7 linked regions of the Homo sapiens genome follow. The protein of the gene in region 1 interacts with the protein of each later gene in a biochemical or structural test. Each region holds a gene or a part of one and is shown in the gene's direction. Other genes may lie near its edges. The genes, in order: PTPRF, FYN, LRFN5, LRFN2, ACAN, LRFN1 and PPFIA1.

Region 1 (3,500 bases):
CTAGAGAGGTCGAGCTGGAGGCCCACAGGCCATGGATGCTCACTAACAGACATGACTGATGGCCTGCTGTGCCCGTGCCATCCGCAGCGGCCTCAGCCTCAGTGTGTCTTTCCCACTCAGTTCTCTATCGGCAGTGGCCACCACCTGCCCTAGGAGTCTCCCTTCCTATCCGTGCACCTTCCAGCCTGAAAGGGATTTCCAAAGATTTAACTTTGTCACTCTCAGTTTAAAACCTTTTGATGGCTGCCCACGTAAAGCCCACCCTCTTTAGCCTGACAGCCAAACACCTGGCTAATCTGACCCCTGCCACACTCCTGACATTGCGACACTGAACTCATTCAGTGTTCAGGCCCACACAGGGTGTGCCCTCTGCGGATCTCCCTCCCCCTGCCCACTTGGCAACAGCAATCTCATCGTTCAGGACTCAAGTCCATGCTCTGGTGCCTGCAAGGCCTTGCCTGGCCCCTACCCCTTCCTTGCACAGCTGTCCCCTGTGATGCTCCACTGCAAACGCAGCTGGGCCTGTGTGCCAAGCCTTCAGCCCCCAGCACTGGGCTGAGCCCACAGGCATGTCAGTGAGCACCTGGCAGATGAAGATATGCTAGTCTGTGTGTCTGAGCACATCTCTGCACCATGCAGGAGAGCCTGTATCCTGTGTGCCTACCCTGGACCCACTGTTCCTTCCTAAAGAGTCCACTCCTTCCTCCCAGGGTGGATGGACCTGTGGGCGGGTCCCTAAGGAGTGTCCCACAGATGCACTCATCCTTCCCACTTCCACCTGCATTCTGGGTCTGTCCAGAGAGGTAGACCCCCTCCCTGTGAATGTCATGTGGGTGCCATATAAGGGGCCTGCAGGGTCCCCATGTCATTAGAGGGCTGAGTGCTTGGTGGAAACTGTGACCGTTCCTTTCTTCTGTCCTTGCTTGTCTTTCGGGACCTAGTAAACAAGAAAGGTAGGAGTTGTTCCTTCTCTCTTCACACACCTCCCCCTCTACTTCTAATCCTTGGGCCAGCAGGGAGGGATGACGCTTTGACCAGAAGTCCCCTGGCCTATGGCTTTAAGCAGCAAACTGTCCAGTCAGCTCAGCAGGCTCCCTGGTTCAGGACTGAGTCCTCATTGGTGTGAGGAGGCAGTTTCTGTCTCACTCTTGCCAGTTCAACTCTGCAGAGGATGCTTCTTCTCTGGGGCACATACATAATACAGACTGCATTGCTTTCCCTGAGCGTACAGAGCTCACCAGAACCATCACCCGGCTCCCAGTTCTCTGAGAAGTTGCCTAAGTGCTGCGAGAGACAGTCTCGCACAGAGCAAAGAGCAGTCACTGTGTGGAACAGCAGAGAGGCATGTCCTTGTACCCACCTGAGCACACTCACTCAAATTCTTCTTTCCGAAGCACATGCGTCTGCAGACCACAAGTAGCCTCTGGCTATTTGTTGGCAGCTGAATCCTATGGTCTGTCTCTGACCCTGTCCTTGTAGATGGGAAAACTGAGGCCAGTGAGAGAGGACTCTGCCCAGCTAGGGTGACGCCTTTCCCGTCCCTCCCCTGCTGCCCTGGGCATTTACCCTGATACTCTGAGGGCCAAAAAGCTGGGGCCCTGTCTCCTGTGCTGTTTGTGTATTTTATGTGTCATTTGCATGTTTGTTCCCGGTGGTTCCTGCTACTCAGCTGGGTGGCCTTGGAGATAGCAGTCACTGTCCTGCAGTGACCTGCCTTCTATCCAAAGGAGCTGCTCGCCCCTGCAACCCCTTCCTCCCTGCTGCACTGCCCCTCTGCTCACGCCACACTCCTGCTCTCCCTACCCCCTCCCTGCCCTGTGTTCTCTCATGTCAAGGCTGTTCTGGCCCTGGCTCCTCCGCGCTCAGAGATCCTGGGAAGAGGTGGGGCAGTAGGAGGACAGAGCCGTGGACATGGGGGCTCCTTGGCAGCCAGCCATGCCATGTGTCACTGTCTCAGCCTGGACCTCAGGTTCTCACCAGCCTCCCTTCTGTCTCTCTAGGAAAAGGACCCACTCTCCGTCCTCTAAGGATGAGCAGTCGATCGGACTGAAGGACTCCTTGCTGGCCCACTCCTCTGACCCTGTGGAGATGCGGAGGCTCAACTACCAGACCCCAGGTAGGGCACTCCTATGGCCTGTGTGCCCCCAGCCCAGACCTAGCAGGCCTGTGGGTCTGTTCTGCAGGTCTCAGGGTCGCCACTGAAGTTCCTGGGCCGCATGCACTTGTTCCTGCTCCTTTTCTTCCTTTCTGCCCTTCTCCCTGTGCTCATCCACTTTGGTTGGAATGACTGGGGAGCCCCCATATCCTGCAGCTGGACAGGTGCCCCAGGCCAGGACCCTCTTAGGTGGCAAAGCCACTTAGCCACTGCCTTGTCTTCAGTCAAGGCCTCTGAATATGGGCTGAGGACCTCCCAGAGCCCACGTCTCTGCCACAGGGTGGCCAGTGTCTGGCGCACGCTCTGACGCCTCCACATGAAAGAGGGGCATGTTAGCAGTGGGAGATGCCTCACCAGACATCTGTGGGGAGATGAAGTGCCTGCACCTGAGCCTTCCTGGAGGCCGACCCCAGGTTTACCATACCACGTACCTGCCCCTTCTCCTAGCCACTCTCATGGGGCTGTCCACCTCTTCCTTCTACCTGAAATGTTACTCCTCCCAACACCCAGCAGACACAGCTCAGACCTCTCCTCTTGCCCACACCCCCACAGGGTTAGGTGTCTCTTCTTGGCTCCAGGAACCTCCCTCCTTCTTCCTTTTGACGCCTCTCACAGTGAGCTGGGATTACCTCAGTGACAGTCTCTGAGCTCTGTGGTGCCAGGAACTGTGTCTTGTCATCCCCCATCCCTTGTATTCAGCGCACGATGGGTTCTTGTTGAATGCCTGTGAAATGAACACACAGACAAATGAAGGAATGAGTGAACTAATGCATACACACAGGGTTTGTGTATGTATGAGCTGGTTATTCTGCATGTCAAATTACCCCAAAACTTAGTGGCTTAAAACAACAATAATTATGTATTATCTGTCACAGTTTTTGTGAGGCAGGAATTCAGACAGGGGCACAGCAGGAACAGCTTGTCTTTATTCCAGAAAGTCTGGGCCCTCAGCCGGAAGACTTGAAGGCTGGGAGCTAGAGTCATTTAAAGCAGGGGTTGGCAGACTATGGCCCGTGGCCAAGTACAGCCCACCACCTGTTTTTGTAAATAAATTTTTACTGGCTGGGCGTGGTGGCTCATGCCTGTGATCCCAGCACTTTGGGAGGCTGAGCCGGGTGGATCACCTGAGGTCAGGAGTTCGAGACCAGCTAATGAAATCCCATCTCTACTAAAAGTACAAAAATTAGCCAGGTGTGTGGCCCCTGTCATCCCAGCTACTCAGGAGGCTGAGGCAGGAGAATCACTTGAACCCAGGAGGTAGAGGTTGCGTGAGCCAAGATCGTACCATCGCATTCCAGCCTGGGTGACAAGAGCAAAACCCCATCTCAAAAATAAACAAATAAAT
Region 2 (3,500 bases), on another chromosome or scaffold:
TACAGGGTCCACCGTGATGGCTCCCTCCTGTAATCCCAGCACTTGGGAGGCCAGGGCGAGAGGATCACTTGAGCCCAGGAGTTTGAGACCATGCTGGGCAACATAGGGAGACAGTCTCACTCTGTCCCCAGGCTAGAGTGCAGTGGCCCTGTCTCAGCTCACTGCAACCTCCACATCCCTGGTTCAAGCAATTCTCGTGCCCCAGCCTCCCGAATAGCTGAGATTACAGGCACATGCCACCATGCCCAGCTAATTTTTGTATTTTCAGTAGAGTTGGGATTTCACCATGTTGGCCAGGGTGGCCTCGAACTCCAGACCTCAGGTGATCTGCCTGCCTCAGCCTCCCAAAGTGCTGGAATTACAATCATGAGCCACCACTCTTAGCCTCTACAAAAAAAATTTTTTTAGTTAGCAGGTGTGGTGATGTGCACCTTTAGTCCCAGGAGGCTGAGGTAGGAAGATTGCTTGAGCCTGGAGAGGTCAAGGCTGCAGTGAGCTATGATTATGCCACTGCACTCCAGCCTGGGTGACAGAGTGAGACCCTGTCTCAAGAAAAAAAAAAAAAAAAGAAGAAGAAGATGATGAACACAGATCACAATCCAGGTGCTTGGTAAATAAATGCCTTTACTTATCCAAGTCCTCACACACCTAGGGGAGGAAAACAAAATACAAGTAAGTACTCATGGGCGTTTTTCTCAGAATTCTTATAGGGAGGAAGTTATTGAAAATACTATTCCTTTATTCATATCATATCTATCTAATCTGACTTTTTTTAATGCTTGATTATCTTCATATACATTAAGACTGTGTTTTGTTATTTCCCAGCAGTTACAATAATGCTTAGATATCAAGAGATTCAAGAGTTTTGTTTTTTTGTTTATTTTTTGTTATGAGACAGAGTCTCGCTCTGTTGCCCAGGCTGGAGTGCAGTGGCGCAATCCTGGCTCACTGCAACCTCCACCTTCCAGATTCAAGCAATTCTCCTGCCTCAGCCTCCTGAGTAGCTGGGATTACAGGTGCATGCCACCACACCCAGCTAATTTTTTGTATTTTTAGTGGAGATGGGGTTTCACCATGATAGCCAGCATTGTCTCCATCTCCTGACTTCATGATCCACCCACCTTGGCCTCCCAAAGTGCTAGGATTACAGGCATGAGCCACCATGCCTGGCGTTTGTTTTTTTTGTTTTGTTTTGTTTTGAGACACGGCTTTGCTCTGTCACCCAGGCTGGAATACTATGGCACAATCTCAGCTCACTGCAGCCTGGGCCTCCCAGGTTCAAGTGATTCTCCTGCCTCAGCCTCCCGAGTACCTGGGATTACAGGTGCCCACCACCACACCAAGCTAATTTTTGTATTTTTAGTAGAGCTGGGGTTTCACCATGTTGGCCAGGCTGATCTCAAACTCCTGACCTCAGGTGATCTGCCCACCTCGGCCTCCCAAAGTGCTGGGATTACAGGTATGAGCCACCATGCCCAGACTAGAGTCTTTTAGATAAGTGTGGAAAGGGTCTCCTGCAGTAACCATTTCAAATCAAGGTCTTAGATTTCTGGTTTTTTGCATACAGGTGGCAGTTTTAACACAAACCAGTTCTGGTCATGTCTAGAGGGGAGGAAAACAACCCACAACTCAAATCTGATTTTTTTTAAAGAGTGAAAGAGATGAATTAGGGATAGAATCCAGGATAGATTGAAAAGGAACTGAATTAAGCTAGAAAAAAAATACATCCAGGGAAAGGTTAAGGACTAAATTGGAGGAGAGGGGAATTCATGGGCAAAAAAAAAGCCTATGCTGTTGCATTTTGTAAATGACTATTTCAAAATATTTTCTTTCCTTGATCTAATTTAAAGGTGGTACTTTGGAAAACTTGGCCGAAAAGATGCTGAGCGACAGCTATTGTCCTTTGGAAACCCAAGAGGTACCTTTCTTATCCGCGAGAGTGAAACCACCAAAGGTAAGATAACGAGTTGAAGAAGTTGGCTTGTCATTCAAATCTGTGGATTAGTCAGAGGGGATGAAAGGCTTATCTCTAATGTACAAGGATTTTAAAATGGCACATACCCTCCCTGCCTTGTGAGTGGAGTCCTGTTTTCAGTCTTCCCTCCAGGCTCTAAAACTGCAGACAGCACCAAAAGAACTACAGAGGCCCCAAATCAAGACCTTCCTCCTGAAACGGGCTGGATGCAGCTACACTGCTCCAGGCACACAAGATCGTAGAATTTTCAGAAGTCCTTTAGAATTTTGATTTTCTGAAATCTTAGTTCCTCAGGTGCCAGTCATACAGGTTGTTTTTGCTTTCCTTTTGTTTTTTAAATAACTGAGGACTTCACTTCTCTTCCTCCAACTGTTGGACTTTTCATTATTTAACAACTCCTTACAACCCACAAGAGGAGACAGGTCAAGGAAGAAAAGAGTAGTGGCCTCTAGCTTAATTTGCCAGATTATCCATTCCTGTAAAAAGTGTTGTAAAGCAGAAGCTTGAAGCTCACTTCTAGAGAAACAAGCCTTAGATTTCTTTTGCACATGCTGCTGCTACCTCCCAGTATGCCCCTGGGTAGAGAAGACAAGGGAAGCAAGCTCAGCCATTCATCGTGGTCCTTCTTTACCCTTGGGGGAAAGGAGTGTTGGAATTGAGTCTACGCTGTATTATGCAACAAGGGGTACCGAACAGTGTGTTTAAGAAAAATGTCCAGGAAGCTTTCAGTCTCAAGGGCAGAATCATTTTATTGCTAATATATTCTGACATTTGCAGAACATCAAGAAGCATCTTCTTCCTGTTACTGAGTGGAGATGCTGTGTGTGTGTACATGTGTGTGTGCATCCTTGGTAATTATTAATCAGAGTCAAGAAAATGAGGCCTAAAAAGCAAGCTGATACTCTAAATGATTGGAGCTGCTAATGCTTTCCACGTTTACCAGGTGCCTATTCACTTTCTATCCGTGATTGGGATGATATGAAAGGAGACCATGTCAAACATTATAAAATTCGCAAACTTGACAATGGTGGATACTACATTACCACCCGGGCCCAGTTTGAAACACTTCAGCAGCTTGTACAACATTACTCAGGTAACCTTAATTCTAACTACCTACTAACCATTTGGATGCTGGAGGGAGTGGATAGGCCCAGAGCAGGAAAGTGGAAAGGGGTAAAACTAATATGTACAAAATCACTTATAGAGTATGTTTTCTTTGCCAGCCCTTAATGGTAGGGCTTGGCTGTATAGGTTCTATTGCTATTGTTCTACTGTTGTTATTATTAGTTCCACATGTTTGTCCGAAGATTCTATAATATTTTTGTTTCCCAAGTAGAAAGCAATAGGTTAAATTTTAAAAGTTGTTTGTTTTTTCATCTTCAAGTTGTCTTTTCCCATTCCCCGCGTTGCATGTGAGAAAGCAGTCTCTCGGAGGGCGCTTACATGGGGACTCCTACAAGGAATATTGTGTTTCCACTATCACTTTACCCTCAGCACTGTTGCAGGAATAGCTGCACGTACATTT
Region 3 (3,945 bases), on another chromosome or scaffold:
GGAACAAAATGAAGGAGCTCCATATCCACGGAGGCCACCCGTATGGGCCTTTGCCAAGTAGGGCAGAAGAAGCCCTTGTTAGCCAGCTTCCCTTTGCAACTTCCTACTCTTCCTTTGGGTACAGACTGGTGTCTGGGCTAGCTAGGATCACAGCTGAGAGCGAAGGTGCTCTCAGTGTCCGAAGACCACGTGCTGGTGAACCCACAATGAGAAGCGAAAGGGTTTCAGGACTCTAGCAGAAAGGAAGAGCAAGATTTCACTCAGGGTTTCTTAGAAGAAAGAGTTAACTTTGCTCACTGGCTTTTCCAGGATGGAGGGAGTGGGGATAGGGTCGGGGAGAGAAGCATTGGGAGTCTTGTCGGAGTCTCAAGCAAAACCAGGCGAGGGCTCCGGGCAGATCCATTCCCGCAGGGCCCTGTCTAACCTCCTTTCCAGTCGCACCTCTTTCCTGCTTTAGACCCTGCGTCTGTGCCGGTGACCTTAGAGACTAGGTCTGGCTTATGAAGACTGTTGGGCTCCCTTTCTGCCCTTCACATAGTAAAATGTGACCAACTGCAGTATTCGTAATGTCTGATGCTGAGCTGAGTTGATTCCCAAATATAAATGTTCTTTTCAGAATCCGCTCCCATCTGATTAGTAAGCAAATCACCACCCACAACTAAGGGGACAGCGGAAGCCAGCCTCAGATGACTGAAACCCCCAAGTCAGTAGCTCTCCTCAAAATTTCCGGCGGGTTATTATAGATAATGACTTTTCCCACCGCCCTAAGCAGCCGAAGCTTGACTCAGTGATGATTCTCTCTATCCCGTAACTGCGAGGAAGTGGGCGATCAGCAAATTGCCCTTTTGCAGGAGGCTGGGGACGCCCCTGGAAGTTCGCTTTCATTCTCCAGGTTTTCTGCCTTTTCCCTTCCCCCTTCCTGCAACGCCCCCGCGCCTCCTCAGCCTGGGGATTTCCTGGCGCTTCGCCGGCCCTCTCCGCAACCCCCTGATAAATCGGTTCAGAACCAGTCTGGCTGGGAGGCCCGAGGGCTGACAGCAGCGGAGCGGCCCCGGCCGGGGTCTCACGGACTCTCGGGGTCTGGCCGACACGGCCGCTCCCGTCACTGCAGCGCGGGCTGAGCTCACGGCCGCGCGCCCGCCGCCGCCGCCGCCGCCGCCTTCATGCTGCAGCGCAGGGCTCAGTTCCACGCGGCCAGGAGGCCGCCGTTGCCCACACGCGACGCTTTGGGAAGCCCAGCTCCCGGGTCCGCCCCGGCCGCGGCCGCAGCCCCGGACCTCGGCTGCTTGCCTCGCGCCTGAACTGCGGACTCGCCCCAGCGCGGTGGCCAGCGGGCGGGGCGCTGTGTTCCGCGGCGCGCAGGGAGGCGGTGAGCGTGTGCAGAGCTGCCCGAACGGAGGACTATGTATGTGTGTGCGCGTGTTTGCGTGTGTTTGAGCGTGTTTTTCCTTCTTCCCTTGAGGATGTGAATTGTTTAGCAGCTGGCTGCTCCCTTAGGATCCTTGACTTTGGGGAGCTCTGGCTGTGAACACAGCCCACCCATATAATCCATTTTGCACGGTCCGTTATATCAGAAAAAAAAAGCGCAACTGGACGGGGGTGGGGCAGACCAACGAAACCTAGACAGACACACACACACTCAGAGGAGAGAGGAAGAATTGAAAGACTTGAGAAGACTTTGATAACCTCCCTGCTGGCCCTTCTGTGTTCCGGAAAGATCCTGGATGTTGGCTACCTTTTCAAGTCATCTTGGCATGTCTCTAGTGTTTTGTAAGCCGCTTTCCAGCTAGCTGCGTGTGTGTGTGCGCGCGCGTGTGTACGCGCGCGCCTATCTGATGCATTTGACTGTCTTTTATCCAACTGCCCAGAAGCAAATGTGTTAACTCGGCGATGCCCCTTCATGCCCGGGTTCTTGCAGAGCTCTGAGGACGCCCAGACCCATTTTCCTGGCTGGATTTGGAGCGGCTGCTGGGCTGTGGACCCAGGTGTGTGGATCGCTTTACCCAGAAGCTTGGAAAGCGCCAATATTAACCTGCTTCCAGGTACATCACAAGGTCAAGAGAGTGTCTTGCAGCCCTCTTGTTTCCGTGTATCTACACCTTCTTCTCTTGGCCAGAAGGATATTTACGTTTTGGTTCACAGCATTTGAAGCCAAAAGTTCAGCCCTTCGAACTGGTTTGCTATACAAAACAAAACAAAACAAATAAGGTAATGAGGATTGCTTATTAAACTGCTTAACAAAATCCCCGACTCTTCCTCAGCCCTTTCTCGGCTCCCTCCTCCCCACCAAAATGTCACCAGCTCTTGAATTACGTGGATTCGGGTTGGAGGAGAACTTGAAGGAAACGTGATTAAAGGGCTATGCGAGAACGCTCTCTTTGCTGCCCGCGGTCCGGTGGGCTTCGAAGCCAATCGTGAGAAGGACCGGTTCCCTCCGTGCTGCTTCCTCCCCGTGCAGTGCTGGGTGTGCGTGTGCGAGTGTGAGTGCAAGTGCGCGCGCGCCCGGGTGCGAGTGTGTGTGAGTGTGAGCGTGTGTCTGTGTGTGCGTGCGCGGCCGCCCTGCCTCTGCCCGCTCCCCGGGCGCGGAGCCGCGGGTTTCATGGGGCGATTGCAGCGATTCCCCCACCCAGAGCGACCTGCGGGCAGCGGCGGCAGTGGCAGGAGCCGCCTTTCCGATTCCCTACGATGCGGGTGCTGAGCTATGGCAAAGGGCAGCGAAGTGACGAGCGAGACCCGCGTACGACTGTGAAAGCCACCTGGAGCCACCTTGCCGGGATTGTACCTGCAGGCAGAAAGTCTTCCTACGACCGTCTTTTCCCTTAGAGGCACCAGGTAACAAACCAACGATTACTCGCCTCACCCAATTTCCTTTTGATCTTGTTTCTAGTGTCTTATCTGCATTGCAGGCTACTTTACTTATTAATGTTTTGAAAATCATTGGGAAGGGTTGGGTATCCAAGGGCGCCTGCTCTGTGATTTTGTAATACGATTTCTAGTAGGTGAAATATAAATCTATACCTAAGCACTTAATCTAGTAGTGAAAGCTTTGAGAATATGGATGTGCTCCACCCTGAGGATATTTTTTGAGAGCTAGGCGTGTGGAACCTGTCTGAAGATGCCAGAGATCAAAATTCTGTGTTTCCTTCAGGCTGTGGTTGCCACGGACCATTTGGTACCCAACCCTTTCCAGATTGTGAAGTGTGAGTGGGTGTTTGGTTTCCACCCATCATTTAAACCAAAGATCTTTTCTACCCTTTTCTACCTCTGGTGCCAGGTTGTTTTCCTTTCCTTGTTGTGGAGGAGCTTGCCAGATCTTTTTAGTAGTTGTAAATTACGCATCTGGAGACTTTGACTCGAAATGGAGTTTTCTTGGAACTTGGTTTGCATGAAAGGGAATACATATTGTCACGGCTGTGTGTCTTGAGATATGGTGTTTAACTGCCAGGACGTGCTTTTATGTAGCAGAATAAATCCATGAAAGAAGTCATTTTTATATCTAGCAGAACCAGGCTAAAACGATAGCCACCACCCAACATTCTCTCCAGCTGTATTGTCCCCGTCACGGACACGCAACTCCTTTGCGCGTTTTTTTGTTGTTGTTGTTTGTTTGTTTGTTTTATCCCTGTATAATAGATATTTTGAATTTTTTTTTTCCGGTGCCTTGATTTACAAGGAGCAGGTTGGATTTGCGACTGCCTAATTAACATATTGGGTCTGGTATGTTAAAATGAGATTTCCATGGCCGGCTGAAGCAGAACAAATTTAGTTAACTTCCAAAGCCCTTTACCCTGGCGCCTTTTTTTCCCCTGAATTCCCTTTCGTCTTATCTCAGCGCCCGCCCCCATCGGAAAATTTCACTCCTTTCTCGAAGACATTAGAATTAACAAGATAAAGCACTTCCAAAGTAGTCTCATCAATGTTTTATTCCATAGTGAAGACGGTCTG
Region 4 (4,294 bases), on another chromosome or scaffold:
TATGCAGCATGCCAGTTTGGCAGTTTCCCGGGGTGCACATGTGGAGGGTGCACACATGAGGACCAGCTGCCTCGGCTTCTGCAGTTATGCATGTGTGTAGAGAGGACACAGGGTCGTATGTTACAGATGTATCCAGCCGAGCCAATCCTGGGCTGCAGAGACACATCCACATGCAACATGTGCCTCCCTGTGGGTAACCGGGACAGGTGCACGGGATGTGTTAGCCACCAGGAGAGAAGAGAAGGACTGCAACATTGACATTCTTCCTGCCCCTGGATTTACCAGCTGGAGTACCAACAGGAATCTCAAAATTTCATTTCCTTTAGAAGGAAGGAAATGCCTCTTGGGGAGTCCAGTAAGGCAGAGGACGGTCCTACCTTTCTGGTAACTAGTTGTTTATAGTGAACCGAGAGGATAACCAAAGACGAGACCTTGGCCAGACCTGGGTGTTCTGACTGTGAGCTCACAGTCTGCTTTGAGTAGGGTCTCCGCTACCTACCACATGCCTTGGACAAGTCACTTTACTCTTTTGGGCCTCAGTTTCCTTATACATCAAATGAGGGTTGCTGAGAAGATCAAACAAGTGAAGAGTTGTAAAGATGCTGTGCAAACACTTGGCGCCACTGCACCCTTCACTGATTCTTGTAATAATCATGAAAAGTCAAAGTGCGTGTGTGTGCGTGCACGGGGCGCTCGTTATTCATAGGTCCCTTACCAGGATTCGAGAATCTGAACTGGGCCCCAGGACTGGGTGGGCGCGATCGCCCCAGCCCCCACTCCCAGCCTAGGGCCGGCGCGGTCGGGTTTTCCTCCAGCAGGCGGCGGGCTGACGGCTGCAGGGCGCGCTAGGCACGTGAGGTGGCAGCGCCGTCGCCAGCTGCAGAGGTGCAGCCCTGGCCGCCCGGCTCGCCTTCCGCAGGGGCTGCCCGTGCCGCTGGACCGCGGAGACCGCCCTCCCGGTTCCGGGGCTCGCGGCCTGCCCACCTCCCTCCGCGACTGCGGCCCCAGCCCACTCCCGCCCCACCGTGCGTCCCCGCGCCACCCCTGCCAGGACCGTGAATCCCTCTGGTTTCCGCGGCGGTGTTGGTCGTCTCGGAAGCGGGTGCGCTCGGCAGCGGGCAGGGCAGCGGGCGCAGAGGCTGCCTTCGGCTCCTGCAGCTCCGCGGTTCGCCACTGGGGGCTGCCGCGCCGGAGAGCTCGGCGGGGACGGTGCGCACGGCCGCCGGGTTCCTGGGCGCCTCTGGCCGCTGGGTTTTCTCCACTGCTGGCCCTGCGCTGTCTCCGCAGCCCGCCCGACTCCCTCCCAGATTGGAGCGTGTGATCCGTGTGTGTGTGTGTGTGCGTGTGTGTGTGTGTGTGTGTGTGGAGCGGAGAGAGAAACCGGGTACGCGCGTATGCGCGCGCGCGTGGGGGGCAGTGTGCATGCGGGGAGTACGGGGGAGTGTGTTTGTGTGTGCGTGTGGGTGTGAGTGCCTGGCTCCCTCTCGCTGAGACACACATACACTCACACATACACAACCCGGCAGGCTCGTCTGAACTTGAAGACACCCCACATTCCAAGATGCCCGAGGTTCCTGGGAATGCCTGGGGTTCTTCGATCCGGAAAATCCTACCGGCATCCTCCTAGGGAGGGATTATTATTATTATTTTTCTTTAATCTGGAAGAGAAGAGAACAAGTTGTGCTTTTCCCCCCTTCTTCTTGCTAAATGCCATGGATATAACTGAATAAGCGGCTCAGGGCTTTCCCCGCGTGGACGTCCGAGGCCACCATCTGCCTGCATTCGCCGGAGCCGCCGGAGGGTTTAGCTCGAGTCTGTCTCGGGCGGGGAAGGATGCGTGGCCGAGCCGGGGAGCCCGGGCGCCCCGCGGAGCCGGCCTCGGTGCCACCCAGCCGGGGGTAGATGCTGCCTCGCCCAGGTGAGTGGTCGCCGGCGCTGCGTCTTTGCGATCCCGGGTGTCCGCGGGAGCTCGGCGCGGGGCTGAACGCACCCGAGGGAACCGGGAACTTTGCATCCCTTTCTTTTTCTCTTGAAGACTCCCCGCATCCTAGGTGCTCATGCGGACACCCCCTTCTCTTTTCGCCCATCCTTATCGCGAGAGATTTCCTTTCCTTTCTTTAGTCTTTATTTCCTACAGTGGGGGTGAAACTCTGGCGGGGAGCGGGGAGAGCCGGGTCCATGTGAGACTGGAGAGCCGGATGGAGAGACGGGGAGCCACGGGTGGATGGAACCGTTGAAAACAGCAGGAGAACTTTGCCGCCAGACCACTCTGTTGCATCTCCGCACATGCAAGGCCTGGCTAGAGCCATTGCTGGGGGCTAGGTGGGGGCGCCGGGGACTCCCTGAGCTCTGTGGACTGGGTGGGGTGGGGTAAAGCCAAGTGCGGAAGGGTTGATGCAGAGCGGATGGGAGGAAGGAAGGCATGGTTGCAGTTTGTGGGGGCAGGTAGGGCAGGTTCAGGGACCCTATGCTGGCCTCAGGCAGAAAGCAGATCAGGGGGATTGTGTGTGTGTGCAGCTTGGGGCATCAGAATGGCATGATGAAGCAATATGGAAAGTGGCATTAGCCATGCCTGGGTTCCTAGGTCTCTGTCTCCCACCCAGCCCTGCCCTGGTTCTAAGGTTGGCCTGGGCAGGGAGGAGGGAGAGCAGTAGACCGTTCCGAGGTGGACAGTGCCTTACTTTGCACAGACCTTCTGAGGGAGGTGTCCTACTCGTCTTCCCATCAGCCCGGTACAAAGGACAGAGACAGAGAGTTCTAGGGAGATAGAGCCTCTGAAAACCAGAGCAGGAGGGAGAAGAGAGCCTGAGTGGAGACCGCAGAGGGACTGAGCCAGACTGTTGCCAAATGCACCCGGCGACAGCAGACAGCTGCAGACGGACAGACACCTGCAGGGACAGGGAACATGTCAGAGCCTGCACTCTTGAGTTGGAGTTACAGGCATGGCTATAGATGATGACCCCCTCCCCTGGCCACAATGGAGTGTGTGTGTGTGTGTGTGTGTGTACGCGTGTGTGTGTGTACGCATGTGTATGTTTCAGGGAGGTGGCAGCTGTGGCCTCCATGGCCTGATTGGCCTTCTAGTACTGGGGGAGGGGGAAGCTTCAGGAATTTGACCCCCTGCTGCTGGGGAGGAGCAAAGCTAGGGAGGAAACTGCCATTCCCTGGGCTGTGAAGTTCCCAGGGGCCAGGGCTAGAGGTTCTATGTGGGCTGTTATTCTTGTGTGGGGGCCGATTTGGAACTCAAGGTGGGGAGCAAGGGAACTAGGTCTTGGGGTTGTGCCCTGGTCTGGTCGCTGCCCTCTGGCAGGAGCTTTATATAGCCACACACAGCAGAGCCCTGAGGGTAGTGTCATTTCCTTGTGGGGTACATCAGAGGCTGAAGGGGGTCAGAGTCCTGTAGGGAGGATTCAGAAGCTCCAAAAGGCCTGCACTTGGAGCCGTCATCCTCCGCCGACCATGCCAGCTGCCTGGGCCCTTCTGCTGATGCTGGAATGTCATCTTTCCCTTCTGACTCTGGCTGGGAGTGCAGAGTTGCATCTCCCTCTGGCCTCCTCACATGCTTCTGCTCAGGCCCCCTGCCCAGCCCTCAATTTAGAGTTTCTGGTCTAATTCCTGACCAGGAATGTAATTATTTATCTTCCTGCCCTCATCCTGGGGATGCAAACAGCAAACTTGGCATTTCTGTTTCAGCCTCTGGAAGGTTGGCTCCCAGTTCCATCTCCTGTCTAGAAGAACTGGGTGCCTGCCTGCTGTGGGCTGGAGGCTGGGGTTCAGGGCTCCTTCTTCTGTGAAGTGCCAGTTCTTTGCTCAGGCCCAGAAACGTGAGAAGCTGGGGAGTCTGGCCTGAGAGAGGGTGAGCTGGGAGCTTCCAGGAGGTGAGGCTGAGGAGGAGAAGCAAGATAGATGGGAAGAAAATGCAGTCAGAGTGGGTGGGGCCACCGGGGAAACCAGGCAGCCTTCTGGCCAACTGAGTCCTTCTTTGACTGAAGGAGGAATTGCTCTTCTTATCTTTGCTTCAGCTCCAAAGGAAAAAAAAAAAACAGGGATTCTGGCCTCCAAGTGCCAGTTTGCCAAGCCTCTTCAGCCTGTGGGGTTGAGCAGGTTCTGCTCTCCTTTTTTGCAGGGTGGATGTATAGAGGCTTATAAGCTCCTGGCGTGGGGTCTGTCTACCCAGGGACAGTGGAGAAGTGAAATTGGAATTAATTGTTTTCAGAAACTCCCCTTTCCTAAGGTAGATATTAGCATCTAGGGAGTTCACAGTCTGATGGGGGAGGCTGCTAGACTGGAAGCA
Region 5 (3,500 bases), on another chromosome or scaffold:
GTTGGGGATCTCAGTGGACTTCCTTCTGGAGAAGTTCTAGAGACCTCTGCCTCTGGAGTAGGAGACCTCAGTGGGCTTCCTTCTGGAGAAGTTCTAGAGACCACTGCCCCTGGAGTAGAGGACATCAGCGGGCTTCCTTCTGGAGAAGTTCTAGAGACCACTGCCCCTGGAGTAGAGGACATCAGCGGGCTTCCTTCTGGAGAAGTTCTAGAGACCACTGCCCCTGGAGTAGAGGACATCAGCGGGCTTCCTTCTGGAGAAGTTCTAGAGACCACTGCCCCTGGAGTAGAGGACATCAGCGGGCTTCCTTCTGGAGAAGTTCTAGAGACCACTGCCCCTGGAGTAGAGGACATCAGCGGGCTTCCTTCTGGAGAAGTTCTAGAGACCACTGCCCCTGGAGTAGAGGACATCAGCGGGCTTCCTTCTGGAGAAGTTCTAGAGACCGCTGCCCCTGGAGTAGAGGACATCAGCGGGCTTCCTTCTGGAGAAGTTCTAGAGACCGCTGCCCCTGGAGTAGAGGACATCAGCGGGCTTCCTTCTGGAGAAGTTCTAGAGACCGCTGCCCCTGGAGTAGAGGACATCAGCGGGCTTCCTTCTGGAGAAGTTCTAGAGACCGCTGCCCCTGGAGTAGAGGACATCAGCGGGCTTCCTTCTGGAGAAGTTCTAGAGACCGCTGCCCCTGGAGTAGAGGACATCAGCGGGCTTCCTTCTGGAGAAGTTCTAGAGACCGCTGCCCCTGGAGTAGAGGACATCAGCGGGCTTCCTTCTGGAGAAGTTCTAGAGACCGCTGCCCCTGGAGTAGAGGACATCAGCGGGCTTCCTTCTGGAGAAGTTCTAGAGACTGCTGCCCCTGGAGTAGAGGACATCAGCGGGCTTCCTTCTGGAGAAGTTCTAGAGACTGCTGCCCCTGGAGTAGAGGACATCAGCGGGCTTCCTTCTGGAGAAGTTCTAGAGACTGCTGCCCCTGGAGTAGAGGACATCAGCGGGCTTCCTTCTGGAGAAGTTCTAGAGACTGCTGCCCCTGGAGTAGAGGACATCAGCGGGCTTCCTTCTGGAGAAGTTCTAGAGACTGCTGCCCCTGGAGTAGAGGACATCAGCGGGCTTCCTTCTGGAGAAGTTCTAGAGACTGCTGCCCCTGGAGTAGAGGACATCAGCGGGCTTCCTTCTGGAGAAGTTCTAGAGACTGCTGCCCCTGGAGTAGAGGACATCAGCGGGCTTCCTTCTGGAGAAGTTCTAGAGACTGCTGCCCCTGGAGTAGAGGACATCAGCGGGCTTCCTTCTGGAGAAGTTCTAGAGACTGCTGCCCCTGGAGTAGAGGACATCAGCGGGCTTCCTTCTGGAGAAGTTCTAGAGACTACTGCCCCTGGAGTAGAGGAGATCAGCGGGCTTCCTTCTGGAGAAGTTCTAGAGACTACTGCCCCTGGAGTAGATGAGATCAGTGGGCTTCCTTCTGGAGAAGTTCTAGAGACTACTGCCCCTGGAGTAGAGGAGATCAGCGGGCTTCCTTCTGGAGAAGTTCTAGAGACTTCTACCTCTGCGGTAGGGGACCTCAGTGGACTTCCTTCTGGAGGAGAAGTTCTAGAGATTTCTGTCTCTGGAGTAGAGGACATCAGTGGGCTTCCTTCTGGAGAGGTTGTAGAGACTTCTGCCTCTGGAATAGAGGATGTCAGTGAACTTCCTTCAGGAGAAGGTCTAGAGACCTCTGCTTCTGGAGTAGAGGACCTCAGCAGGCTCCCTTCTGGAGAAGAAGTTCTAGAGATTTCTGCCTCTGGATTTGGGGACCTCAGTGGACTTCCTTCTGGAGGAGAAGGTCTAGAGACCTCTGCTTCTGAAGTAGGGACTGACCTCAGTGGGCTTCCTTCTGGAAGGGAGGGTCTAGAGACTTCAGCTTCTGGAGCTGAGGACCTCAGTGGGTTGCCTTCTGGAAAAGAAGACTTGGTGGGGTCAGCTTCTGGAGACTTGGACTTGGGCAAACTGCCTTCTGGAACTCTAGGAAGTGGGCAAGCTCCAGAAACAAGTGGTCTTCCCTCTGGATTTAGTGGTGAGTATTCTGGGGTGGACCTTGGAAGTGGCCCACCCTCTGGCCTGCCTGACTTTAGTGGACTTCCATCTGGATTCCCAACTGTTTCCCTAGTGGATTCTACATTGGTGGAAGTGGTCACAGCCTCCACTGCAAGTGAACTGGAAGGGAGGGGAACCATTGGCATCAGTGGTGCAGGAGAAATATCTGGACTGCCCTCCAGTGAGCTGGACATTAGTGGGAGAGCTAGTGGACTCCCTTCAGGAACTGAACTCAGTGGCCAAGCATCTGGGTCTCCTGATGTCAGTGGGGAAATACCTGGACTCTTTGGTGTCAGTGGACAGCCATCAGGGTTTCCTGACACTAGTGGGGAAACATCTGGAGTGACTGAGCTTAGCGGGCTGTCCTCTGGACAACCAGGTATTAGTGGAGAAGCATCTGGAGTTCTTTATGGCACTAGTCAACCCTTTGGCATAACTGATCTGAGTGGAGAAACATCTGGGGTCCCTGATCTCAGTGGGCAGCCTTCAGGGTTACCAGGGTTCAGTGGGGCAACATCAGGAGTCCCTGACCTGGTTTCTGGTACCACGAGTGGCAGCGGTGAATCTTCTGGGATTACATTTGTGGACACCAGTTTGGTTGAAGTGGCCCCTACTACATTTAAAGAAGAAGAAGGCTTAGGGTCTGTGGAACTCAGTGGCCTCCCTTCCGGAGAGGCAGATCTGTCAGGCAAATCTGGGATGGTGGATGTCAGTGGACAGTTTTCTGGAACAGTCGATTCCAGTGGGTTTACATCCCAGACTCCGGAATTCAGTGGCCTACCAAGTGGCATAGCTGAGGTCAGTGGAGAATCCTCCAGAGCTGAGATTGGGAGCAGCCTGCCCTCGGGAGCATATTATGGCAGTGGAACTCCATCTAGTTTCCCCACTGTCTCTCTTGTAGACAGAACTTTGGTGGAATCTGTAACCCAGGCTCCAACAGCCCAAGAGGCAGGAGAAGGGCCTTCTGGCATTTTAGAACTCAGTGGTGCTCATTCTGGAGCACCAGACATGTCTGGGGAGCATTCTGGATTTCTGGACCTAAGTGGGCTGCAGTCCGGGCTGATAGAGCCCAGCGGAGAGCCACCAGGTACTCCATATTTTAGTGGGGATTTTGCCAGCACCACCAATGTAAGTGGAGAATCCTCTGTAGCCATGGGCACCAGTGGAGAGGCCTCAGGACTTCCAGAAGTTACTTTAATCACTTCTGAGTTCGTGGAGGGTGTTACTGAACCAACTATTTCTCAGGAACTAGGCCAAAGGCCCCCTGTGACACACACACCCCAGCTTTTTGAGTCCAGTGGAAAAGTCTCCACAGCTGGGGACATTAGTGGAGCTACCCCAGTGCTCCCTGGGTCTGGAGTAGAAGTATCATCAGTCCCAGAATCTAGCAGTGAGACGTCCGCCTATCCTGAAGCTGGGTTCGGGGCATCTGCCGCCCC
Region 6 (4,015 bases), on another chromosome or scaffold:
AGATACTCAGTGGGGTTTGAGGGAAGGGGTGGGGTTCAGCTATGGGACAGGGGATGGGCAAAGGGGTCTGAACTAGGAAGGAGCAAGGCATTCTGGGCTCTATGGAAGTCACAGGGAGGGGGGACTTTCAGGGTCCAAGAGAAAGAACTGGAGCAAGAAGGAGGCAGGGTCCTCAAGGGGGCAGGACTAGTAGGGGGTGGGAAAAAATTGGGGCTAATTGGGGAGTTTTGGAAACCAAAGGATGTCTTGGAGGAGAAGGAGAGAGAAAGGTGTAAGGTCAAAGGGGTGGAAGATGGTTTGGGGTCTAATGGGGTTCATGGGGAAAGTTTAAGGGTCTTCCATAGGGATAAGAGACATTTTAGGGCCCCCTAGAAGTTAGGCATGGTTTGGAGTTCATACTGGGGGTAAGGGAATGGGTTAGGGTCCTTGAGGGTAGAAGGACATGGCTGGGGGTCCCCAAGAAGGAGTGGAATATGATTTGTGGTTCTGGTGGCTGTAGAATGTGGTTTGGGTCCCCAAAGGGAGTCAGGCACCATCTGGGATTTGGCTGACATATGGTCTGAAGTCTCCCCCGATGTTAGGGTATGATTTGGGGTCCGTGAGGGAAGGGGTGTGGTCTGGGGGTCTATCTGAATGTTGGGATATGATTTAGGGTTGCTGGTGGGGTGGTCTGGATCCCCTTGGATGCTGGGATATGATCTGGGATTCTTCTGGGTTTGGGGGCATGGTCTGGGGTTCCTGACAGTGTGTGGGTCATAGTCTGAGGTCAAGCAGGAGAGCAGGGCATGATTTGTGGTCCTGGGTGGCCCTAGAACATCGCCTGGGTTCTCAAAAGAGGTGAGGCCTGATCCGAGGTCCCCCTGGGTATTAGGACGTGATGGGAGGTCTCTGTAGGGAGATCCGGGGTCCCTAGGCCAGTTGGGGCGTGGTCTGGGGGGGTCTCCGGGGAGGCCGGCGGGGCTGGGGGTGGGGCTGGGGAAGGGTCGGGGGCGGGCCCGCGGCGGCTCGGCAGTGGAGAGGGGTCTGCGGCGGGTTCGGGGCGGGGATCCCGGGTGTGCGACCGCCCCGCCCGGCCGCCCCCACCAGTCGGCGCCCCCTCCCCCCTTGCGGCGGCGGTGGCGGCGGGCGGCGCGGAGGGCGGAGCTCGGCTGCGGCTCGGGAGGGAGGGCGGGAGGCGGGAGGGAGGCGGCCCCGCGGCACCGCGCCCCCTCCCCCGGCCCTCCCCCCACCATGGCGCGGAGCGAGGCAGCGGCGGCGGGGCCGGGCCCGGGGCCCCCCCGGGCTGGGTGAGCGCGGCCTGCAGCGGCCCGGGAGCGGCGGGCGGGGGCGCGGGTGTGTGCGCGGGTGTGAGCGTGCGAGCGTGCGAGTGTGTGTCCGTGGCGCTGCGGCGGGCCCGGCGTGCGCCCGCGCGGCCCTATGTGTGCCCGGTGCCGGCGTGTGCGGCGCCCTGCCCGTGTGGCCATCGGGTGTGCGCGGGGTGTCGAGCCCGGCCGGCGTGTCCGGCTGTGCACGCGTGTCCCCCCGAGCGGCCGCCCCTCCGGCTGTGTGTCTGGGCGCTGTCGCGCGCCCATCGGAGGGGCTGTGTGCAGGTGTGTGTGTGCGTGGGTTGTGTGCCCAGGTGTGGGTCCCCCCCAAGCCCATGTGCGTGCGCGACTAGCTGCTCTGGGTGTTTGTGTCCGGGTTGGATGTCCATCCCCGGGTCTGTGGAGCCGGGTGTGCCCGCTCGGGTGTCCATTTGTGTGTGTGTGTGTGTGTGTGTGTGTGTGTGTGTGTCTGCGGGTTGTATGTCTCCGAGGGTGTGTATCTGTGAGTCCACGGCAGGTTGCTGGCTTGGGGGCTGAGGCTCGGCGCCCAGGCCTCGGTGTGGATTTGGGGGAGGGGAGTTCGCCGCTCCCTCGGTCCATGTCAACTGGGGGGTCCTTAGCGGTCCTGGGGGAAGCGGCCATGTCTTCCCCTTCCCGGTGGTTGCGGGGGGGGGATGGGCGGCCAGGAGGTGGACAGATGGAGGGGGGATGAGAGGCCGAGAAATGGACAGATGGGCCCTGAGGTGGGGGTTGGGGGGCGAAGACCCGGCCCTTCCCCACCCACTCCACCCTAATTCCCCCACCGGCCAGACATCTGCAGACGGAGCCAGAGTTACCTCCATCCTGATGGCCAGGCTGGGGAACCTTTGGGGCTGCTGGTGGGAGGATCTCCTTGAAACGGTGATCTAGGACTCAAACCCCCAAATCCTCTTGAGTTTCCACCTGCTGAACTCTGACCTCTGGCCTGGCTTTTGCCCTGGTTTTTTGGGGGTGTGGAGGGCAGGATGCTGAATGTGCTGCAGGGATGTTAGGATTTCTTGGGCCTGGGAAGTAAGTAGGTGGGGTGGTGGGGGGGTGCCTCAGGGCTGGGAGGAATGTGTGTCCAAGACTGTGTGAGTGTGAATCTGGGCCTGTCTACTGACTGTGCTACTGTGGTTCAGTATTTTCTATGCATTTGGAAGTGTGTAAATCACAGGACTGTTGTGTGAGCATGTGTCTGTTATGAGTGAACATCTTGGCGTGTCTGCAAAGGTGGATCTTTTTGTGCCTGTGTGCGTGTTCCAGTGTGGATCAGCCTCGTATCTGTATGCTTGTGGTTTTGTGTGTGTGTGTGTGTGTGTGAGGTATGTATCTGTTAGCGTGGTGCTGTATCAACTTTGCAACATGGAGATGTGTGAAGTATGAGTGTGTCTAGGCATTTAAGAGTGTGCACTTGTGTATGTTTGCACAGGTGTGTGTGTGTTTGTTAGATGTGTGTGCCCCTGTGTGCTGGTGAGTGTGCAAGGTAGATCTGTTGTAAATGCATGTACCTGGTTGTCTGTTAGGGGGCACATGAGTTTCTCTGTTGTATCTGTGCATTTGTGTGTGTGAACTTGCATGGCAGAGTCAGTGTTGTACATGTATTGTTGCATGCAGGTGTGTCAACCTTGAGGGTATGTATCCATCTATGTTGTGAGTCTGTTTGTGTTTTGGTGTTGGTCTCTGGGGGTTGTGTATGTTCAGACATGTATGTGAAAGACACATGTGTCTGTGCCCTGGCACAAGGCTGTCCCTACTCTTGGGTTCAGTGGGTTTGAGGCCCATGTGGCATGACCTCTGGTATACTGGGGTCCCGCCTGGGGTCCCTGGACACAGTGTGTCCATATGCCAGGCCAAGTGCCCATAGAGGGCGGAGGGCACACAGATCATGTTGCTATGTTCATAGAAATCCAGATGTAGAGACTTGGGTTGTGGGCTTGCGTGGGTTCTGACATGGACACACATGTTGGTGTGGGCAATAGTATCATGGCAAGGATGGGAAACTTTGGCCCTTCCCCAGCTCTTGGTACCGTTCAGGACTTTGGAGTTGAGGGGCTGGGATGTAAACTCTTGGGTTCTAATGGAGGGCCAGAGGTCTGGTCTGGACTCTTGGGTCAGAGGGAAGAGGGGGCTGGGGTTCTTGGCTCCTGAAACCCCAGAGGACAAAGGGCTAAAGTCCTCGACTCCTGGGCTTTGGAGGGTGAACAACCCTGAGGCCTAATCTAGGATTCCAGAGAGGACTTCTGGGTTCCTGTGAGACTATGCAAAACCCGCCACAGGAGGACTGAGAGCGTGATCACACCAGGGACTTCCTTGGCCGGGATGGTCTCCAAGGCAAGATCTGGTGCACAGAGAAGAGCCAGAACGATGCTAACAAGGTGGTTCTGTTCCTTTGCAGGTGCTGGCCCAGGCCCTGACTCCCTGAAGAGAGGTGAGTAGAGCCGTAAGGCTTCAGAGAGAGAGAGACATGGGGGGTGATGGGGCTTGCTGTCAGCCAGCTGGGGGTCTGGAACCCTGCCTCGCATGGATTTCAGTTCAGGGGATGACAGTTTCCTGAAGGACCAGTTGCCCACCACTCTGTCCAAGGCTGGGGAGTGGTGACAAGGTCAGGAACATCAAAGTTGGGTGAGGGCTTGTGGTGGCCAGGTGGCTCTGGGGAGCAGGTGGGGGGTTTCAGGCCAAGAGACATTCAT
Region 7 (3,500 bases), on another chromosome or scaffold:
CTATGTTCCTTTTTTGTTGGATTAAAGAATCATTAAGATTTTTCTTATTTCAATCTTATAAATTACCAAGTTTATTTATGTTGAATTTTATTACTACAATTTTAAAAGAAGTAGCCAATTTATGTTTTACCAGGATTTTATTGTATTTGTAATTTAAGGTACACGTATTGAAGTGTATATCAAATACTAATATACTTAATAAGGTAGGTTTTGGAAAGAATGGGCACACAAGACATGTCAGGGAAGTGACAGGAGTTTTGTACAGTTAGTCGCAGGCTGTGGAGGTTGTCACACACACTGGTGACATGGTTGCTCAGTGATTTGTTTCTGGCACTGCTCAGTGTAGCAGCCTGGGAATGCCTAGTTCAGTGGATAACATGATGATGCCAACGGTTCACGTTACCACCTGAGCACCTGATTCCAGCCTTTCAAAAATGGAAACTATTAAGTAAACTTGTTTTGGACCCTTCCCTTTCCTGGCATCTGGTTCATCTTTGGTGGCTGGTAGTGTGACCAGATAATGAGTCCAGGAAGTGCATTTGTGCTCCTGGCACATTGTGGAGGCAAGTTAGAGTGTACTTAAAAATATACATAACTATAGCATACAGCAGAAAAATTCACAAATCGTAAGTATACATCTCAGTGGACTTTTCACAAAGTTAACACACTTGCATACCACCACCCAGATCAAGAAATGGAACATTATCAGGCTTCCTAGAAGTCCCCTCCTAACTATTCCCAGTAGTTGTCCCCCAGAGCTAACCAAGGTCTTGACCTTTCACCATTGATTACTTTTGCCTGTTCTTGACTTTGTTTAAGTGAAGTAAAATAATCTGTATGTTTTGCTTCTTCATTCTGTCGTCAGCATCATGTTTGTGAGATGCAGCTTGCTCATTCTCACCTGCTCTCTGGTCATCCCGTGCACGAACAGACAGAACTTATTCTTTCTACTGCTCACAGACATTTGGGGTTGTTTCCAGTTTTTACACGTGCTCCCCTAATATTGTTTGTTTTTTGGTGCAGATGTCTATAAACTTTTTTTTTTTTGAGATAGGGTCTCACTCTGTTGCCCAGGCTGGAGTGCAGTGGCATGATCTCGGCTCACTGTAGCCTCCACCTCCCAGGTTGAAGCGATTCTCCTGCCTCAGCCTCCCAAGTAGCTGGGAATACAGGCACGCATCACCACCCTCCGCTAATTTTTGTATTTTTTGTAGAGGTGGGGTTTTACCATGTTGCCCAGGCCGGAGGATATGTGTACACTTCTGTTGGATTTCTACAAAGAAGTGGAATGCAAATGATGGTGTGTGCATTTGTTCAGCCTCAGTAGAGAGTGCCAAAAGTGGTGGTTGTGACAGTTTGTACTACCCCAGCAATGTATGAGAAGTCAGTTGCTCCTATGCTCTTCAGCACTTGGTATTGTTGGGTCTTTACATTTTAGCTGTTCTGGTGGCTGTTAGCTGGTAGGTGGCTCAGTATGGTCTGAATTTGCTGCTCCCTGATGGCCAGGAACATGCAGAGGTAAAGCATCTCTACCTGTGTTCACTGGCCACCTGGATGTCTTTTGTGAAACGGTTATCTTTTGCCCATCTGTTGATTGGGTTGTCTGTTTTGTTTTTTACTGATTTGAAGGAGTTTTCTCTATATTCTGAGTACATATGTGCATGACAGATTGTTTTTAGACTCTTGTGTTTGCCTTTTCACTCTCTCAGTTGTATCTTTTGATACATAGAAGTGTAAAATTTTTAATGTAGCCCAGTTGATCCATCTTTTCAGTAATGTTTAATGCTCTTTGTGTCCTGTTTAAGAAATTTGCTTGGTCAAGTTCATGAGATATTCTACATTGTCTTCTAAAAACTATTTTTTAATCTTCCATCTGAAATTGACTTTGTTTATGGTATGCGATGGGGCCAAGAGTCTCTCTTTCTTTTTTTAAATGGATATCTAGTTGACCTTGCATAATTTCTTAAAAGACTATTCTTTCCCCAGTGTACTACATGCAGTGTCATCTCAGTCCAGTGACTGTAAGTGTGTGGGTCTGTTTCTGGACTCTCTTCTGCTCCTTTGATCTTTTTGTCATCTTTGCACAAATAGCACAATGTCTAAATTCCCATAGATATAGTCTGTCTTGAGATCTGGTAATTTAAGAAAAGGGTACTCACTCGGTTGCCCAGACTAGTCTCCAACTCCTGGTGTCAAGCGATCCTCTCACCTTGGTCTCCCAAAGTGCTGGGATTACCACTGTGAGCCACCACACCTGGCCCTGTAGATATTCTTTATCAAAATGTAAAAATTCTCCTCTTCTTAGTTTGCCAAGAGTTTTTTAAAAACCATGAGCAGGTATTAAATTTCTTAACATGGATTTTCTGCATCTTTTGAGACAGTCATGTGATTTTTCTGTTATGTGGGAATTTAACTGTTTTTGTTTGTTTATTTTTGAGATGGGGTCTTGCTCCATTACCCAGCCCGGAGTGCAGTGGCACCATCATAGCTCGCTGTAGCCTTGAACTCCTGGGCTAAAGTGATCTTCCCACCTCAGCCTCTCAAGTAGTTGGAATTATAGACGCACGCCACTGCGCCTTGCTTTTTTTTTTTTTTTTAATTGCATATTGTTTGTAGCCTGGGGAAGCAACTTCAGGAGCTCCTGAGAAAGAGCACCTCCCTTTTAAAAAAAATTTACAATTGTAGAATAATTCCAACCTGATCTTGATGTATTCTCCTTTTACTGGATTATATTTGGTAGTATTTTGTTTAGGATTATTGCATTTATATTCACGAGAAAGATTGACTTATAATTTCAGTTTCCTTCAGTACCCTTGTTGGGATTTGGTATCAAGGTTATGCTGGTTTCTTAAAACAAGGTGGAATGTATTCCTTCTTTTTCTACTCCCTAGAAGAGTTCCTACGAAATTTGTGTTTTCTTCCTTAAATGTTTGAAATAATTCTTTGGCAAAACCAGCTGGTACAGGGTTTTCCTTGTGAGAAGGAAAAATTTTAGAATTAATTTTATAGGTAGATGTAGGATTTTGAATATTTCTTCATGTGTCTATTTAGATAAAGCATTTTTCCCCGCTAGAGATTTGTTCAGGCCACCCAGACTTTCCAATTTGTAAGTTTAAAGTGGTTTGTAATCCTTATTATCTGCAAGATCTGTAGTGATGTTCCCTTTTAATAATTCTTGATATCAGTAATTCATATATTATCTCTTAATCAGTCTTGTTGGGGGTTTGTCAATTTTGTAAGTTCTTTTAAGGGACCAACTTTCGGCTTTACATTTTTTTCTACTTACATTTGTTTTCTATTGCATTAATTTCTACTTTTTTTTTTTTGCTTTTTTTTTGTTTGATTGAGATATATATATATATATATATATATTTTTTTTTTTCCAGGCACAGTCTCATTGTGTCTCCCAGGGTCAAGTCCTTAGATACTTGAACTGGATTTAACTCCCTCCTACCTTTTGTGTCATTGTTTTATATATTTCAGTTTAATTTATATTTATT

What was found.
Region 2: the proteins of PTPRF (region 1) and FYN form a complex in vitro, tested with the Homo sapiens proteins (one study listed by BioGRID).
Region 3: the proteins of PTPRF (region 1) and LRFN5 interact in a biophysical measurement, tested with the Homo sapiens proteins (one large-scale study listed by IntAct).
Region 4: the proteins of PTPRF (region 1) and LRFN2 interact in a biophysical measurement, tested with the Homo sapiens proteins (one large-scale study listed by IntAct).
Region 5: the proteins of PTPRF (region 1) and ACAN form a complex in vitro, tested with the Homo sapiens proteins (one study listed by BioGRID).
Region 6: the proteins of PTPRF (region 1) and LRFN1 interact in a biophysical measurement, tested with the Homo sapiens proteins (one large-scale study listed by IntAct).
Region 7: the proteins of PTPRF (region 1) and PPFIA1 form a complex in vitro, tested with the Homo sapiens proteins (one study listed by BioGRID).

Annotation. Positions count from the first base shown.
Region 1 is NC_000001.11:43,607,383-43,610,882, forward strand, and holds part of PTPRF (receptor-type tyrosine-protein phosphatase F isoform 1 precursor), read left to right. Parts: intron 1-941; coding exon of another isoform or gene 942-953; intron 954-2,000; coding exon 2,001-2,116; intron 2,117-3,500. UniProt on the Homo sapiens protein: Possible cell adhesion receptor. It possesses an intrinsic protein tyrosine phosphatase activity (PTPase) and dephosphorylates EPHA2 regulating its activity.
Region 2 is NC_000006.12:111,702,453-111,705,952, reverse strand, and holds part of FYN (tyrosine-protein kinase Fyn), read left to right. Parts: intron 1-1,850; coding exon 1,851-1,954; intron 1,955-2,918; coding exon 2,919-3,068; intron 3,069-3,500. UniProt on the Homo sapiens protein: Non-receptor tyrosine-protein kinase that plays a role in many biological processes including regulation of cell growth and survival, cell adhesion, integrin-mediated signaling, cytoskeletal remodeling, cell motility, immune response and axon guidance.
Region 3 is NC_000014.9:41,605,731-41,609,675, forward strand, and holds the start of LRFN5 (leucine-rich repeat and fibronectin type-III domain-containing protein 5 isoform 1 precursor), read left to right. Parts: upstream 1-1,145; 5' UTR 1,146-2,832; intron 2,833-3,945. UniProt on the Homo sapiens protein: Cell adhesion molecule that mediates homophilic cell-cell adhesion in a Ca(2+)-independent manner. Promotes neurite outgrowth in hippocampal neurons.
Region 4 is NC_000006.12:40,584,565-40,588,858, reverse strand, and holds the start of LRFN2 (leucine-rich repeat and fibronectin type-III domain-containing protein 2 precursor), read left to right. Parts: upstream 1-1,494; 5' UTR 1,495-1,918; intron 1,919-4,294. UniProt on the Homo sapiens protein: Promotes neurite outgrowth in hippocampal neurons. Enhances the cell surface expression of 2 NMDA receptor subunits GRIN1 and GRIN2A. May play a role in redistributing DLG4 to the cell periphery.
Region 5 is NC_000015.10:88,855,436-88,858,935, forward strand, and holds part of ACAN (aggrecan core protein isoform 3 precursor), read left to right. Parts: coding exon 1-3,500. UniProt on the Homo sapiens protein: This proteoglycan is a major component of extracellular matrix of cartilagenous tissues. A major function of this protein is to resist compression in cartilage. It binds avidly to hyaluronic acid via an N-terminal globular region.
Region 6 is NC_000019.10:39,318,064-39,322,078, reverse strand, and holds the start of LRFN1 (leucine-rich repeat and fibronectin type III domain-containing protein 1 precursor), read left to right. Parts: upstream 1-1,215; 5' UTR 1,216-1,286; exon of another isoform or gene 1,287-1,589; intron 1,590-3,720; 5' UTR 3,721-3,753; intron 3,754-4,015. UniProt on the Homo sapiens protein: Promotes neurite outgrowth in hippocampal neurons. Involved in the regulation and maintenance of excitatory synapses. Induces the clustering of excitatory postsynaptic proteins, including DLG4, DLGAP1, GRIA1 and GRIN1.
Region 7 is NC_000011.10:70,273,690-70,277,189, forward strand, and holds part of PPFIA1 (liprin-alpha-1), read left to right. Parts: intron 1-3,500. UniProt on the Homo sapiens protein: May regulate the disassembly of focal adhesions. May localize receptor-like tyrosine phosphatases type 2A at specific sites on the plasma membrane, possibly regulating their interaction with the extracellular environment and their association with substrates.